2 separate regions of the Homo sapiens genome follow, and region 2 is linked to region 1. A link means that fine-mapping ties the variant in region 1 to the expression of a gene that starts in the linked region. Tissue or cell type: skeletal muscle. Region 1 holds a variant in brackets; the other region holds the start of a gene. All regions are shown on one strand. Distances are from middle to middle.

Evidence for each region. PIP is the estimated chance that this variant, and not a neighbour inherited with it, causes the effect.
Region 2: CKAP2-DT starts here. The variant in region 1 is fine-mapped to the expression of CKAP2-DT in skeletal muscle (GTEx, PIP above 0.99).

Annotation. Positions count from the first base shown.
Region 1 is chr13:52,603,173-52,611,279 of GRCh38, forward strand. No RefSeq gene overlaps it. Among named protein-coding and RNA genes, the nearest start is that of LINC00345, 6.9 kb to the left of the region's middle. The variant A/G (reference allele first, on the strand shown) is at 4,196.
Region 2 is chr13:52,451,728-52,459,834 of GRCh38, forward strand. CKAP2-DT (CKAP2 divergent transcript) reads right to left here and starts at 3,619. Exons shown (of 1, transcript NR_185890.1): 1 at 3,048-3,619. CKAP2 (cytoskeleton associated protein 2) reads left to right here and starts at 3,751. Exons shown (of 9, transcript NM_018204.5): 1 at 3,751-3,899; 2 at 4,796-4,880. The coding sequence starts at 3,830. RefSeq lists enhancers at 2,902-3,081, 3,372-3,451.

The sequences.
Region 1 (8,107 bases):
CAACGGTGCTCTTTCTGCTGTCTTTATTTTAGGAAGAGAAATGAAGATACTGATGTTAAAATGCTTCCTATCTCTCAGATGCTCAGAGAACTGATTTCAAAATCACCTGGTTGGCACTAAATCAAGAAAGTGTCCTTGCAAACTTTGTTCCGAGTGTAATTTCCTAGGGATCCTATGGCCTCTTGAGAACAGCATTTTAGGGACATGGATCACTGCTCTCTATAGAGGTAGCTCAACTCAAGAGCATTTTACATGTAGGCTCCAGACAGCAAACATGTCAACACACTGACCTCTCTGCTCCAGGTGACTGTTTGCTACACTGGGGATTGCACAAGTCAGAGACTTCAATGCAACTGGCTTTGTGATGGGTGGCAGGTGTGATGTGGGTCAGAGGTGAGAGGACAGACAGAATGGCTGCATGGAAAAGCGAGCATTTGCTATTCTACAGAATTCCATAATGCACTGGTTAATGACACTAAAAGGAGAAATAATTTCACAAAATGTATCCCTGGTCCTGACACCACGTGGGGCGTGTTTTAACAAAGTGAGTTAATTGGGGTTGCAAATAGATCAAGAGCATAAAACATCTCTGACTCAAATGTATTTTTAGTTAATAAGAAAGAAGAGGGGCCCAGCACGGGGGTTCATGCCTGTAATCCCAGCACTTTGGGAGGCCCAGGCTGGTGGATCATCTGATTTCAGGAGTTCAAGACCAGCCTGGCCAACATGGTGAAACCCCGTCTCTACTAAAAATACAAAAAAAAAAATTAGCCGGGCATGGTGGCGGGTGCCTGTAATCCCAGCTACTTGGGAGGCTGAGGCAGGAGAATCGCTTGAACCTGGGAGGCCAAGGTTGCAGTGAGCTGAGATCGCTCCATTGTACTCCAGCCTGGGCGACAAGAGCGAAACTCCATCTGGGAAAAAAAAAAAAAAAAAAACCAAGAAAGAAGAAAACTTCCTTTTGATTATGCAATTTTAGTTCCCATTACATGTTCTTGGCTGCTGATTAGAAATTTAAATTCTAGAATTAAAAAATTCTAGAAGTAGGAGTTTCCAGAGCTGATTAATTTAACAGCTCAAGAGTATCTGGGGAAGCTTCTCTGTAAGTCTCTTAGCCTTTCCCTCATGACTGCAAGATGGCTGCCACAGCTCTGCCTATCACATCCGCACATGCAACATCCAAAGGCAGGAAGGAAGCACACTCACATATCTTCCTCTCATCAGAGAAAACAATCTTTCCCAGCAGCCCTCTGTCAGGCTTCCCCTTGTGTTTCATTGGCTTAGAAATGGGTCTCATACTCCTCCCAAAAATCAACACTCAGAGGAGACTGGTGTTAGCATGATCGCTTGAGAATAGGGTCAGCAAAGTTCTTCTGAAGAGGACCAGCCAGTAAATATTTCAGGCTTTGCAGGGCATGGGGTCCATGTCACATCTAGTCAGCTCTGCTCTTGTAGAGCCAAAGCAGCTAGAGACACTGGAAACAAATACATATGCCTGTGTTCCAATGTCACTGTGGACACTGAAATTTGAATTTCATATATTTTTTACCTCTTACAAAGCATTTTTTTTGGTTCTTTTTCCAGCGAATTAAAAGTGTAAAAAGCATTTTGTATGGTATGAGGCCATACAAACACAGGTGGTAGGCCAGATTTGGTTAGCAGGCTGTAGTTTGTCAATCCCTGGTTTAGAGCAATGAGGACTCATCCCCTTGGGGCTGTGGGAAGGGACCACCTTCCCTGAAACATCACCACTCACACCTGAAAAAAAGAAGGGTGAGGGAAGTGTTGTTAGGCAACTGAGAATGTCTCCTACAGCATATTAAGGTTATGGAAAAACGCTGAGGGTTATGATAATTTTTAAAAAGCAAATTACATGTCAATATGGGCAGGATGATCCCAACCAATTCTGCTTGTTGAAATCCCTGCCATTCACTGAAATCTATGTTAGACGCAGCCACCCGAGAGCACCTGTTTCTGATTCCTGGTTCTCAGAAGCCAAATTGGAGCATCCCTTCCTATCCATGACAAACTTCCCTTTAGCACCTATCCTGTGCTGGATGCTGTCAACCCAAACTAACTGCTGGAAATGCAGAAGTGAAAGAGCCAATGGCTAGCCTCAAAGAAATCACTGTCGCCGGGCGCGGTGGCTCACGCCTCTAATCCCCAGCACTTTGGGAGGCCAAGGCAGGTGGATCACAAGGTCAGGAGATCGAGACCATCCTGGCTAACACAGTGAAACCCCGTCTCTACTAAAAGTGCAAAAAAAATTAGCCAGGTGTGGTGGCGGGTGCCTGTAGTCCCAGCTACTTGGGAGGCTGAGGCAGGAGAATGGCGTGCACCCAGGAGGCAGAGCTTACAGTGAGCTGAGATCGCGCCACTGCACTCCAGCCTGGGTGACAGAGTGAGACTCAATCTCAAAAAAAAAAAAAGAAAAGAACAGAAATCATTGTCCAAGCAGAGGAGGAAGAAACCAGGAACTATAATTCAGGGGTGGGTATGCAGCAAGAGGCATGTGGGTAGGGGGGCATCCCTGGAGGGAATGAATGAGGGATGGAATAGAAGTTTCAGGGGAGGCCCACAGGAGACCTCTGTGCCAACATAAATGGCATCTGGCCCTTTGTTAAGAGGATGAATGTAGTTGGTGTATCATCTACTCCAGGGGCCAGGAGAGTTGCAACTAAGCCAGGCTCTTAGTTGTAATCAACAGAAGCACAGAAGAGATTGATTAAAAGGATTAAAAGGTTGTAGAGTGACTCTTCTGCTTGCTGGATGGGGAGGTGGAATGCCGTGAATAGCTTCCTGCACCAAGGCCCTATGCCCACTGCAGTCCTGGCCTGCAGTGGAAACCACTGCTGCTGCCCCCCTAGAGCTCTGGATGTGATGGTTTGTGATGCTGCCCCTTCTCATACCAGGGCCACAGCCCAGTATCCTTTGCTCCTCCAAAGCTGTGTGCCTGCGTTACCAGCTTTGCCCGGTACATCACTTACACACTGCGTCCACTGCCTTGGATTGCTTATCTCTAAGTTGGTATCTCATGTAGATGCAGCTGATGGAGGGAGGCTGGGTCATGTGCCTGTACCCTGCTCTGCATAGAAGCCTGGCTGACTGGGATCTCTGGCAACTGCCTTGGAGAGGTAGGACTCACTCGTGTGTTAGGAAATCCCCAGAACATAGCCGGGGTTTTCAAACAATGCTAGGCAGCCAAAAAACATGACACATGTCCACTCTGCATGGACCAAGCATCCCAGTCAGAGGAAACATGCAAAGGCACAGAGGTGTGAACCGGCAGAGCATGTTTGGGGAAATGGAAGCAGTTTGTTTCTGCAGAAGAGAGCAGTGAGTGTTGGGAGAGTTGCTTGGTGCAGCCAGCAGGAGCCCCTGCTAAACTCATGGTCCTTGTGGCTCCAACCTCAAGGGAAAATACTTTTTTTTTTGAGACAGAGTCTTGCTGTGCCACCCAGGCCTGAGTGCAGTGGCATGATCACAGCTCACTGCAGCCTCGAACTCCTGGGTCCAGGTTCATGTCCGTGTCCTGAATGGCTGGGACTACAGGCGTGCGCCACCACCCCCAGCTAATTTTTGTATTTTTCTGTAGAGATGGGTTTTTGCCATGTTGCCCAGGCTGCTCTTGAACTCCTGGTCTCAAGCAATCCTCTTGCTTTGGCCTCCCAAAGCACTGGGATTACAGTTGTGAGCTATCAAGCCCAGCAAGGGCAAGTACCTGTATCTTACTCAGTGTTCCCTGCTGAGGCCCAGGAGCTGTGATTAACTCCTTGCTGGGCCCAGGGCCCTGCCCCTGGTGAGTTTTAGTCAGTATCTGTCTAAAGGAATTATCTTTGTAAACTGTTGGATTGCATCATTGTTGTGAAATAGCAAGTGTATGCAGCTTCTCTCTCTTTCTCTTCTCTCTCTCCTTCTCTCTTGTGTGTACATTTCCACAATGTACTATTTTATAATTACATTAATAATGGTTCCCCCAGTAAAAATAATCTGGATTTAGACCGTTGGTATCTAAATATTTGTATGGCACCTATCACTAGATATTTAGCCATTTATAAACATCTTTTTAAAATGCTTTCATTAAATTAGTTATTCTGGGCAAACACAGGCAAATATAACCATTGAAAGGACACACAAATAAAGGTCCAGCAGAGTTGAGATGCCATTGCCTTAGAGATTAGCATGCAAGCTCTGG[A/G]TCAGACACCTGAGAGGGAAATCCTAGCCTCTCTGCTTCCAGCTGGATGAATCGGAAAAGTCTCTTGGGGTGGGAATGAGAGGAAAGATCTGGTTCTGCCAGTTGATGCTTTGAGTACCCCCTGCTCCATGCTGCTGCTTCTCAGCTTCATGCGATTGTACCTTTGAGGACTTCCATGGGCCACATTCTAACCTTTTTTAATTTTTTTAAGACACAAGGTCTTGCTCTGTCACCCAGGCTGGAGTGCTGTGGCGTGACCATAGCTCACTGCAGCCTTGAGCTCCGAGACTCAAATGATCCTCCCACCTCAGCCTCCTAAGTAGCTGAGACCACAGGCCTGTGCCACCCTGCCTGGCTAATTTTTAATTATTTTGTTTGTGTGTTTGTTTGTAGAGAAGGAGGTCTCACTATATTGACCAGGCTGTTCTCAAACTCATGGCCTCAAAACAATCCTCCCATCTAAACCTCCCAAAGTGCTGTGATTACAGGTGTGAGCCACCGTGCCCAGCACTAACCCTCTTATTTACAATGGGATTGTTTGCCTCACTGTGCCTAAATTTGTAAAACATGGCCAATTCTTAAATGCTCTGTCATTCAAAGTATTTAGTCAATCTCTCTGTTCCAATTAAGCACCAGAAATTTGGAGATGAAAAGCCGCACCTCATTTCGTTCACTGAGAATCACAAAGCCAGGCACAGGGGGCTGGGAGCAGTAGAGCATGGGCACAGAACCCAGCCCAGAGGACCAGGAAAGGTTCTAGAGCTTGGGGCAAGAGCTGAGCCTTGAAGTAGGAGTAGGAGTTAGGCAGGGAGGAAGAAGGAAACGCAGCATTGGATGGCAAGGAGGTGGGGGAAGGCATGGCCGTGTCTGGGAGCTGCAGGGGCTCCCGTCAGGGTGGGAGGAGAGGTAATGGGAAGGAGACTAGCGAAGGAGGCAGGGCTGATCTTGAGGGGTCTCACAGGCCCTGCTAAGAGAGTGCAGGATTTCTTTAGAGGATGGTAGAGGGAGCCGCTGAGTAATACAGACTTCCTGATGTGAACGTAGCTGTGTGGAGGAGGCTGACAGCATGGACTCTGGGTCGACTGTCCGGTCCTCAAAAGCTGGCTCTCCCACCTGATGACTTTGTGATAGTGAGAAGCTCCTGTAAGCCTCAAATTTCTCATCTTAAAAGTGAAAAATGGTGTTACTTGCCTCAGGAAATTTTGTGAAGATGAGAAAATACAAATAAAGCACTATTATAGTGTCTAATACTTAGTGGTCAATAAATGCTAACTATGGTTGTTATTGATCATTTGAATAATAATGAGGTATACAGTTTGTCTCATTTTGTAGACTTGTGATAATGGAATGAATGAACTTTGTCACAGCAAAATAAGTTTAAAATGTTAGTTGTGTATCCTGATAGAAAATATAAACTTAAAAAAATTTCTTCATGAGACAGAGGTCTCACTATGTTGCTCAGGCTGGTCTCCAACTCCTGGCCTCAAGCTAACCTCTCACCTCAGCCATTGTGCCTGGCTAATATAAACATTTGTTTATTCATTCCACAAATATTGATTGACCATGAAGGATGTACCAGGCACAGTTCCAGGCTCTTGGGATAAGGTAGTAAATGAGGCTGCCCCCTCGATGAGGGATCCCTACTCTCACTGAGCTTACATTCCAGCGGGGAGGCTGATGATGAAAAAGGAAACAATGTGATTCCCAAGACCTGTACGTTCCGCCAGGGCAGGGAACTTGTTGCATTTGTACCTTGATCTATCCCAAGTGCATGAGACAGGGCCTAGGTCAGGCACTTGATGAACGTGTTGAGTGAATGGAAGATTATTTCAGATAGTGCTGAGTGCCGGAAGACAAGGAAACAGCGCTACATGACAGAATGGGAAGGTCGACTTGGCTAGATGCGGTGCACGGCTGAGAAAGCACTGCTGAGCTGAAGTGGATGGTATGAAGGAATCAGTCATGGGACAGTCTTTGGGACAGCTATTCCAGGCCAAAGAATTTTCCATGCCTAAGCTGAAGGCCCTGAGGCAGGGCTGTGCTGGGAATGCACAAAGACGGGAATGAATGGACCCCACAGCACAGGGGCCAGTAATTTGTGGGTCATTGGCAGGCATGTCTTTTATCTAACAGGAGACTATTTTTGCCTCCAGAGGGCACTTGAACATAACAAATGCATCTAAGGGCCAGCTTGGGTTAACACTTAGACAGAAAGCAGTTTCCTGAAAGCATAACTTCAGAGGCCAGGAAAGCAAAAAGAAAATAATCTCAGCTGTAGCCTTTGCTTATTGAAATTTGAAAGCACCTCTTTTAAAAATTAACTTTTATGAGATAGTACAAGTGTTAGCTAGCAATGTGGGCTTTCATACATTAGTGTTAGTTTAACAACATAGCCCTCCCCTTGGTGGATAGATGAGAGAGCAGTTTGACAGGTAGGAGAGGGGACGAAAGGCTAATTTAGAGAGGTCTCGGCAAAGGTGTCAGGTCTGGGTGAGACCCAAAGCAAGGAGGCTCTGAGAAGCTAAAAGGCAACATAGAGAGGGGCCAAGGGACGGGGGAGAATGAGTACAAGAAGGCAAGAGGATGGGCTGGGGGAACCAGAGTACTCTCATGCACTTTAGAAATTGACCTGAGGACAGTTCTGCCTGGTCATATCTCTGTCGTCTCCAAAAGTCATGTGCTAAGCACTGTTTCAACATAGTTCTATGTCATATGCTGTGCAATACACACTAGTGTGACATGATCCTGGTCTTCCATGTACCTAAAATCCAAAGCAGTTTTACACATGAATATACTAAGAATGAGTCATCTTACGTGGAGGGGAAAGACAAGTACCTAGACAATCTAATTTGAAGGACACGAAACCACTTCGTCTTCAGTCCCATCTCCCGTAAGTCCTCCTGCTGTGGGCCTCTCCATGCTCCTCCCTCTTACTTTGTCCTTTGGCTTTGGGCACTAAAGCGCTTGTGAAGAAGCTAATGAAATCTAGGAAACTCATCCATCTGGGTGCAACCTCTCTGGGCCTCCACAGGCCTGGCACCTGTTGCATTGCCTATCTTGTTAGTTTACCTGCTCCACATCTGTGATCTCTGCTAGATCACCAGCCCCTTGAAGCAGGGAACAAGTCATACTCACCTGTGTGTTCCAAGGGGACTAAAGCTTCATTTTTCACATAGTGTTATACAGTTACACTAATATCATCTACCTATATATTATATAAACATGCACGTATGTTCATCTTTTGCTGTTGTTGTTTTTTTTGAGACAGGCTCTTGCTCTGTCACCCAGGCTGAAGTGCAGTGGCACTGCAGCCTCTGCCTCCTGGGCTCAAACAATCCTCCCACCTCAGCCTCCAGAGTAGGTGGGACTGCAAGCACACACCGGCATGCCCACCTAATTTGTTTATTGATTTGTATTTTTTGTGGAGATGAGGTTTCACCATGTTGCCCTGGTTAGTCTTGAGCTCTTGGGCTCCAGTAATCACCCACCTTGGCCTCCTAAAGTGCTGTTTTAGGCTGTGTTTGAGGCTGTTTTAGGCTGTGTTGTGAAGATGCAGAGGCAAAACAGCTCTTTTTTTTTTGAGATGGAGTCTCGCTCTGTCGCCCAGGCTGGAGCGCACTGGTGTGATCTCGGCTCACTGCAAGCTCTGCCTCCTGGGTTCATGCCATTCTCCTGCCTCAGCCTCCCGAGTAGCTGGGACTACAGGCGCCTGCCACCACGCCCGGCTAATTTTTTGTATTTTTAGTAGAGACGGGGTTTCACCATGTTAGCCAGGATGGTTTCAATCTTCTGACCTTGTGATCTACCTGCCTCGGCCTCCCAAAGTGCTGGGATTACAGGCGTGATCCCTGTTTTGTCGTGCCCGGCCTGACGAAACAGCTCTTAATCCACCTAAGAAAAAAGAAAGGAAAT
Region 2 (8,107 bases), 150 kb before region 1:
CCCTGTCTCTACTAAAAATACAAAAAATTAGCCCGGCGTGGTGGCGGGTGCCTGTAATCCCAGCTACTCGGGAAGCTGAGGCAAGAGAATCGCTTGAACCCTGGAGGTAGAGGTTGCAGTGAGCCGAGATCGCACCATTGCACTCCAGTCTGAGCGACAGAACGAGACTCTGCTTCAAAAATAATAATAATAAATAATAAATAAATAAATAAATGGAGCAGCTTATAGATGTCCTTCTACAATTGATACATATTTTTCTCTTTAGGATTATTTTCTTACAGTGTCTTCCTAAAATAGAATGACTGCTTTAAAGGTTGTGAACACATTTTAGAGAGCCTACCACTTATTGGGGTCTTAACTAAGGCTGCGTGCCCACGTGGGCAGAGGGGCACAGGGGCAGAGGGACAGAGGGCAGGCTTGCTCTCTGCCCCCAGGGCTCCACATTTCCCCCAGTCGTGGAGTCAGTGGTCTGTGGCTAGGCATTAAAAGAAAGGAAAGGCTCTTTCCAATGAGTATAAGCCATCTCTCCCCCGAAATGAATTGCTACTTTTACCGTGTTCCAAAATCCTGTGTGTATTTTGGTCTATTTCTAAACAGTGTCTTCTGTATTTCATATCTTTCAATTTCCATCATGACCATATACCCAATAACCAAAAGTTCTTTGAAAACATTTGATTTGCTGTAATATGCTATCAATATATATCACAATTTACCATCATTGCCTGATTTTTGAGCATTTGATTGTTTACCAACTTTTTAGTCTTTTTTAATTGAAAGTAATGTGACCTAAGCATCCTAATCAGATGTGGAACTGTGCAGTTATGCCTGGGCTTTGCAATTATCAACATGTTAGGCAGTGAGGACATTTGCAAGGTATGTTTTCTGCCCTTGAGGGATGTACAGTCTGTAGGACACAAATAGAAGCCTGGCATATGATAGCTGCTGGGATAGACAACCGTATAAGGGTTTCCTGTATCCAGGCTGGAGCAAGGAGAAACGTCATGTGGCTTATATATGGCAATAAATGAATAGACAAAAGGTTTTAATTTTTATGAAGTTCAGTGTATTTTTTTCTTTCATAGTTCATGGAATTTGCCTATTTAAGAAATCTTTTTTCCACAAACCAGATATTGATACTGATTATGAAATCTTTGCCTAACACAAAGTCACTAAGATTTTCTCCTATAATTTCTTCTAGAAGCTTCATAGTTTTGGTTCTTACATTTAGGTCTATGCTTTTTTTTTTTGAGACAGAGTCTCACTCTGCCGCCCAGGCTGGAGTGCAATGGCACAATCTCGGCTCACTGCAACCACTGACTCCTGGGTTCAAGCGATTCTCCTGCCTCAGCCTCCCGAGTAGCTGGGATTACAGGTGCCTGCCACCACGCCTGGCTAACTTTTGTATATTTTGTAGAGACAGGGTTTCACCATGTTGGCAAAGCTGGTCTTGAACTCCTGACCTCAGGTGATCCACCCGCCTTGGCCTCCCAAAGTGCTGGGATTACGGGCATGAGCCACCACGCCCAGCCATCCCCAGGATGTTTTTGCCAGGACCTCCCACCTTCTGAATCAGATGGTTCCTTTCAGTCCCAATCCTACTGGACCTCTGTAGTGCCCAACACTGTGGTCCATTACCTCTTTCTTCAGCTTCTCTCTTCCCCAGACTTTGTGACCCCATTGTGTCCCCATTGTCCTCCTAACTTTCAGATTGTCCTTCCCTGTTCTCTCACAGGCACTTTACCTTCTTCACATGACCACAGGAGGAACGACTAACACTAATTAATCATCAGTACTCCAGGTGCCTGCAGTTTCATGGTCAGCTGTGTTGGCAAAGAACTGTTCTGAAAGGAAATCTTTTTTGTTTTGTTTTTTTTGTTTGTTTTTTGGATCTTTTAGAAAAAGGTCTGCTTTCTCTGCAATAATTGTGTAGCAGTAATATTAAAAAGTGTCTCAAAAATAGACATATCATTGGAGTGGGTGAGTCTGGAGATTAGAGGAGAATTGCCATTTTGAAAAACCTAGCAGTTTGGCAGGTTTTCCTATTCATCTCAGCCTACTGAGATCTCCATGGTATCCTTTGAGTCAATTTCTTTTTTTACCATGCCCACTTATAAAAAATTATTGAGGTTCACATAACATAAAATTAATCATTTTAAAGTGAACAACTCAATGGCATTAATACATTTACAATGTCACCCAACCACTACCTCTAATTCCAAAACATTTCACTTACTTCAAGGTAATGAAACCCTTGTCCATTAAACTGTCTCCCAATTCTCCCCCTACCCTCAGCCTCTGGCAACTACTATTCTGAGTTATTTCACTATGGATGTATCTATTTTAGATCTTTCATATAAATGGAATCATACCATATGTAACTTTTCATATATTACTTCTTTTACTTAGCATAATGTTTTGGAGGTTTTTGAGTCACTTATTAACGCTGTATTTTGTTCTCACTTAATAGAAATCCCTGGTTGCCCCACCTGTCTGATGAAACTTTAGTAAATAATCAACAATAATGACAGACGTATTTAAACAGCAAGTTATATCTTAAGGATGGTGATGGACAATGTTAAACTAAAACTGGGACATTTCATCAAGTAAAAAACTACACAAAATCTCAAACCAAATTCCTCATTAGCAAGACGCTACCATAAGATGTCTGAAGAAAAAAGCAGGCAGAAGTGGGAAAAACTGACCACAGCCGAGGGCCAGCTGTGGAGGCCCTCAGACCTGGGAAGGGTAAACGGGGAAATCACATCCTCCCGTCTGTGTGCCCGGAGCACCTAAAACCTGGCTGAAAGAGTCCAGTCCAGCCTTACTGCAGTGATCAGGCAAGAAATGTAAACCCAGTGCTTGAAACCAGGCAGGTGCAGTCCAGACTCGCCCTCACTTCCCCACTGCCACTCTTAAAACCTTCTAGCCCTGACTTGTTTCGTTCTGTCATGTGGATTGAGTGTTTGTGTGGGTTTTATGAAGGTGGTATTTTTAGATGAGAAAAACGAAGATTATGGCGGCACACTTAACCACACAAACACAAAACGTCTGTAACAAATGCTATTTTATCTTCAAAGGAGAATTATATATAACCTTGAGGAGGGGATGAGGTTTATCTTCATTTTTTTCTGTTTCTCCTCCTCTCCTCCCTTTTTTGCATTTGATAATTGCTTAGAATAAAGGTATGGAAAGTAGATCCCAATTTCAGTTCCCCTTCACACGCTGTGCAAACGTGGACAAACAACCTCTGAACCTGTCACCTCTCAGTGGAAAAAGTGGTGATAACGTCCCACCTCAGAATTGATGCTCAAAATGAAGCAGTATTTGTGAAACGAAAATACACACGCTCGTGGTACGCCAGATCGGTGTTTACGTCCTCGTCAGTGAACGCGTCGATGTTTAATAAGAAGGGCAGCCAATCAACACTTTTCTTGTCTTTTTCTCGTCTGCCTTCCTCCAAGGACTGTGAGGGTCTCAAGATGTGTCCCATCTCGGTTGTTTGTCAACCTAGTCCTGCTATGTCGTGGGGACTGAGCAGGCCGACTCCTCCCCCATCGCACGTCCAGGATGAAGAGCGCTGTTTAGGTTTGAAACCTGCAGACTCAGTCCCAACCGAACTGGGCAGACACCAGACCGGCCCCGGCAACTGCAGTCCAGGCTCCGCCTCCCTACGCCCATTGGCTTATTCAATTCACGCAGGAACCAATGGGCGGAGACGGCAGCCGCGCCGTCTGACGGCTTAGCCGCGGTGCAGACTGCGGCGGCGGTGGTCTGAGGAAGTTCTATCTTGGCGCTAAAGCGGAGACGCATCCCCCGACCCGAGGCTACGATGAGCACACCGGCCGTGCCCCAGGACCTGCAGCTGCCCCCGAGTCAGAGGGCGCAGTCCGCATTCAAAGGTGAAGGCCGCGGTGGCGGTGGCGGTGGCGGTGGCGGTGGCGGTGGCGGGCGCGGGCCCGGCGGTCGGGGCTCGGGGCCGCGCTGGCGCGCTTCACCTCTCCCCCGCTCTGTGAGATCCCTGAACGCGGCGTCGGCCTCGCCCTGCCTCATTCTTGGCCTTGTGGAACGGATCATAAAAACAGGAACCGCTGCGTGGTGTTACTGTGCGGTCGCTGCTGGCTGGGATGGGCCCTCCTAAGAAGGAATCCGTTAGGCGAGGGGAAACGCGCGGGCCTCAGGCCGGGGTCGGTGTCGGAGACCCTGGGTCCGCTTGGGGGCGGGGCTGCACAGGTTCAGGGACCGACTGCGCCTGCGCTGGGTCCTCCGCCTCTTAGGTCCCTAGCGAATTTCTGCAGGGCTGGGGTCGCATCATGTGTTATTTCCAATTTCACAGCTTCTCCTTCGACTTTATGGAAACCGAGGGTTGGTTGGGTCTTCAAAACTAATATTGTTATTCCCTTATTCTACACACGGGAAAGCAGAAGAAAGTAATTCTCATCTAACCCAGTTCTGGTAAATTAGAACTTTCGAGTCTAGTGCCTCACTTCTACCATTTAGTTTCTTAAAGCTTGGCTAGCAGGAGCTGTATGTAGAAAATGATGTTCTCCAGATTTTTCACAGGGAGTAGAGAATGTGATTCTTATGCAGAGGGGTTTTGGGGACCTGTTGTGGTAACAGTCTCTTCTAAGGTGATTTCTCAAAGGCAATATTGAATTGGAGAATTTTCTGTTATATAGATGTGACCTCAGGTGGAACCAGCTTTGGAAGTAAACTCTTCATTTAGTCAACAAGATTTATTTGCCGTTATCGATGTTTTAACTAATATTGACTTGTAGCTCTTACCTTTGTTATCTAGAGCAAAGAAGACAAAAACTCAAGGAACATCTGTTGAGAAGAAAAACGCTTTTTGCATACAAGCAGGAAAATGAGATGTTATCCAGGTAAGGTCAAGTTTATTTCTTTTCACTTCTGTAAAATTGTATCAGATCTGTCCAATGAAAATGTAAAGTAAGCCATATCTGTAATTTTAAATTTTCTAGTAGCCACATTTAGAAAAACTGCTTACATATTATTTTACGTCTTTTTGTGGTACAACGTCTTTAAAATCTGGTGTCTATTTTACAGTTACAGGACATTTCCATTTGGTCTATCCACATTTCAAGCACTCAGTAGCCACATTGGCTAGTGGCTACTTTATTGGATGGTGCAGCATTAGATCATCGTTTTATTAATTTTTTTTTTTTTGAGACAGAGTCTCACTCTGTTGCCAGGTTGGAGTGCAGTAGCGTGATCTTGGCTCACTGCAGCCTCCACCTTCTGGGTTCAAGTGAATCTCCTGCCTCAGCTTCCCAAATACCTGGGACTGACTACAGGCAAGTGCCACCATTCCCTGCTAATTTTTGTATTTTAAACAGAGACCGGGTTTCACTATGTTGGCCGGGCTGGTCTTGGACTCCTGACCTTGAGATCCGCCCACCTCAGCCTCTGAAAGTGCTGTGATTACAAGGATGAGCCACCGCGCCCGGCCTAGATTATCGTTTTCTACGTAAATTAATTCACAGTCTAAGAGAAAAAAACAATTATAAAGCAAAGTATGTGCATAGACTAGATTATCAACTTACTGTTTACACCACACAAAGGTCAGTCTTTCTATTATTTAGCAAAGCTTTTTACTCAGTGTATGGGGGAGTTCATCAGGGAAGGGTTGGGTGGCCCTCCCAAATGCTTAGAGATTACTAGTTGTAGTCTCAACCCTCCACAGAAATATCTTTATTATTTTGTTAAAATATCTTAGATAGTACATAGCTGTAGCAAAAACAAAAACCCATGAAAGTAGATGAAGCAGAAAGGCAAAAGGTCCCCTCACTCTCTAGGGATAACCAGTAATAACATCCTTACAGGCTTAGGCTGGGTGCTGTGGCTTACACCTGTAATCCCAGCACTTTAGGAGGCTGAGGTGGGCAGATCACGAGGTCAGGAGATCAAGACCAGCCTGGCTAACACAGTGAAACCCCGTCTCTACTAAAAATACAAAAAATTAGCCAGGCATGGTGGTGGGTGCTTGTAATCCCAGCTACTGGGGAGGCTGAGGCAGGAGAATCGCTTGAACCTGGGAGATGGAGGTTGCAGTGAGCCGAGATCGTGCCATTGCACTCCAGCCTGGGTGACAGAGCGAGACTCCGTCTCAAAAAAAAAAAAAATTGTCTCAGGTAAACAAAATTGTATATACCACCCACACACATATTCAGAGAGTGGAAATGATAACGCAAATGGGATAAAAATTTTAACAATAGGTGGATCCTGGGTAAAGAGTGTACAGATATTCTTTGACCTGTTTATATTTTTGCAACTTTGTGTAAGTTTGGCATTCTAAAATTTTAAAAATAATTTCTAACTTTATATTAATAAGTTGCTTTAGTTTGGAATAAACAGTTTATCCTTCACAAATAAATCTTTTATTTCTTTGTTTAAGACAAAAAGGTGATCCTAGGTTTTTTATTTGAATAAGTAAATGAATGGTGATAACCGTATACTGAAATAGGAAGCCTGAAGGAGGAGCTGGGGAATTAGGAGTTCTGTTTTGACTATGTTTGAGGTACCAACCAGACATCCAAGCAGATATGCCAAATAATTGTGTGTCTGAAGTTCAGGGGAGGGGTTGGGGCTGGAAGCATAAACTCAGGAATTGATTAGTATACAGATGATATTTACTTAAAAACCTTAGGATGGAATGAAATTACTAGGGAATAAGTAGAGATAATATGGATTCAGACAGTGACTCTCAACCACTTATTTAAATAAAGAATCCAACAAGGTCAGGGGTTTATAATACTCTTAATAGGAAGAAAAGAAAATTCTAAAACGCTTCATGTGGCTTAAGTACTACATTTATTCCTTTCAGAAAACAGATGTTGGCTGGGTGCAGTGGCTCATGCCTGTAATCCCAGCACTTTGGGAGGCTGAGGCGGGTGTATCACTTGAGGTCAAGAGTTCTAGACCAGCCTGGCCAACATGGTGAAACCCCGTCTCTACTAAAAATATAAAAATTAGCCGGGTGTGGTGTCAGGCGCCTGTAATTCCGGGGAGGGCCGAGGCAGAAGAATCGCTTGAACCTGGGAGGCGGAGGTTGCAGTGAGCCAAGATCAGGCCATCGCACTCCAGCCTGGGTGACAAGAGCGAGACTTTGTCTCAAAAAAAAAAAAAAGGAAAACAGATGTCAATTTAAATGTTATCACCTCAGCAGTGAATCATTAAATAAGACAACCAACCTGTGTTGCAGCTTTTCAGAATTAAACAGTTATATTTTACAATCTCTAAAGTATAGATATCCTAAGACTCATTTCCGATAACCCTTCTGAGGGCAGTTTTATAATAAGACAGAATAGGATTAAGTCTCCCCACTGGACAGGTGAGTAAGATGGGTTCTTCTTGTCATCCTGAGTTTTGTTTTGTTAGCTGGCAGTTAGCTACTAAGATACCCTGTTAAGTGGCACATTTTGATCTTCCTTCACCATTGTTCAAAATGTATAGTACAGGTTGTGTCAAAGTTCTGTTCCTTCTCCAAGCTGACAGAACAAATAGATATGAAAGGCAATGTAAGCAAAATTATTAACTACTAAATTATGTCAAATGTAAAATATATATATATATATTTTGTTTTGTTTTGTTTTTTTGAGACGGAGCCTTGCTCTGTCGCCTAGGCTATAGTGCAGTGGCGCGATCTCAGCTCACTGCAACCTCTGCCTCGTGGGTTCAAGCGATTCTCCTGCCTCAGCCTCCAGGGTAGCTGGGATTACAAGCATTTGCCACCATGCCTGGCCAATATTTTTGATTTTAGTAGAGACAGGGTTTCGCCGTGTTGGCCAGGCTGGTCTCAAACTCCTGACCTGAGGTGATCTGCCCACCTTCTCTACCCAGAGTGCTAGGATTACAGGTGTGACCCACTGTTCCTGGCCTCATTTTTTTTTTCAGAGAATGAGAGATCACGCATTTTAATGTGATCTCTGAACTTAGGATCTGTCTTAAAATCAATGGCATGTCTAATTGACCGTATTTTTTCCTATCGTTATAGTACACAAAATTGTTAAAATCACTTGCTAAGAGATGCTCACAGTCTGCCTTAGCCAGTTTATAGCTGTAAAAATAAGTTAAGTCAGTTTCTTGAGGA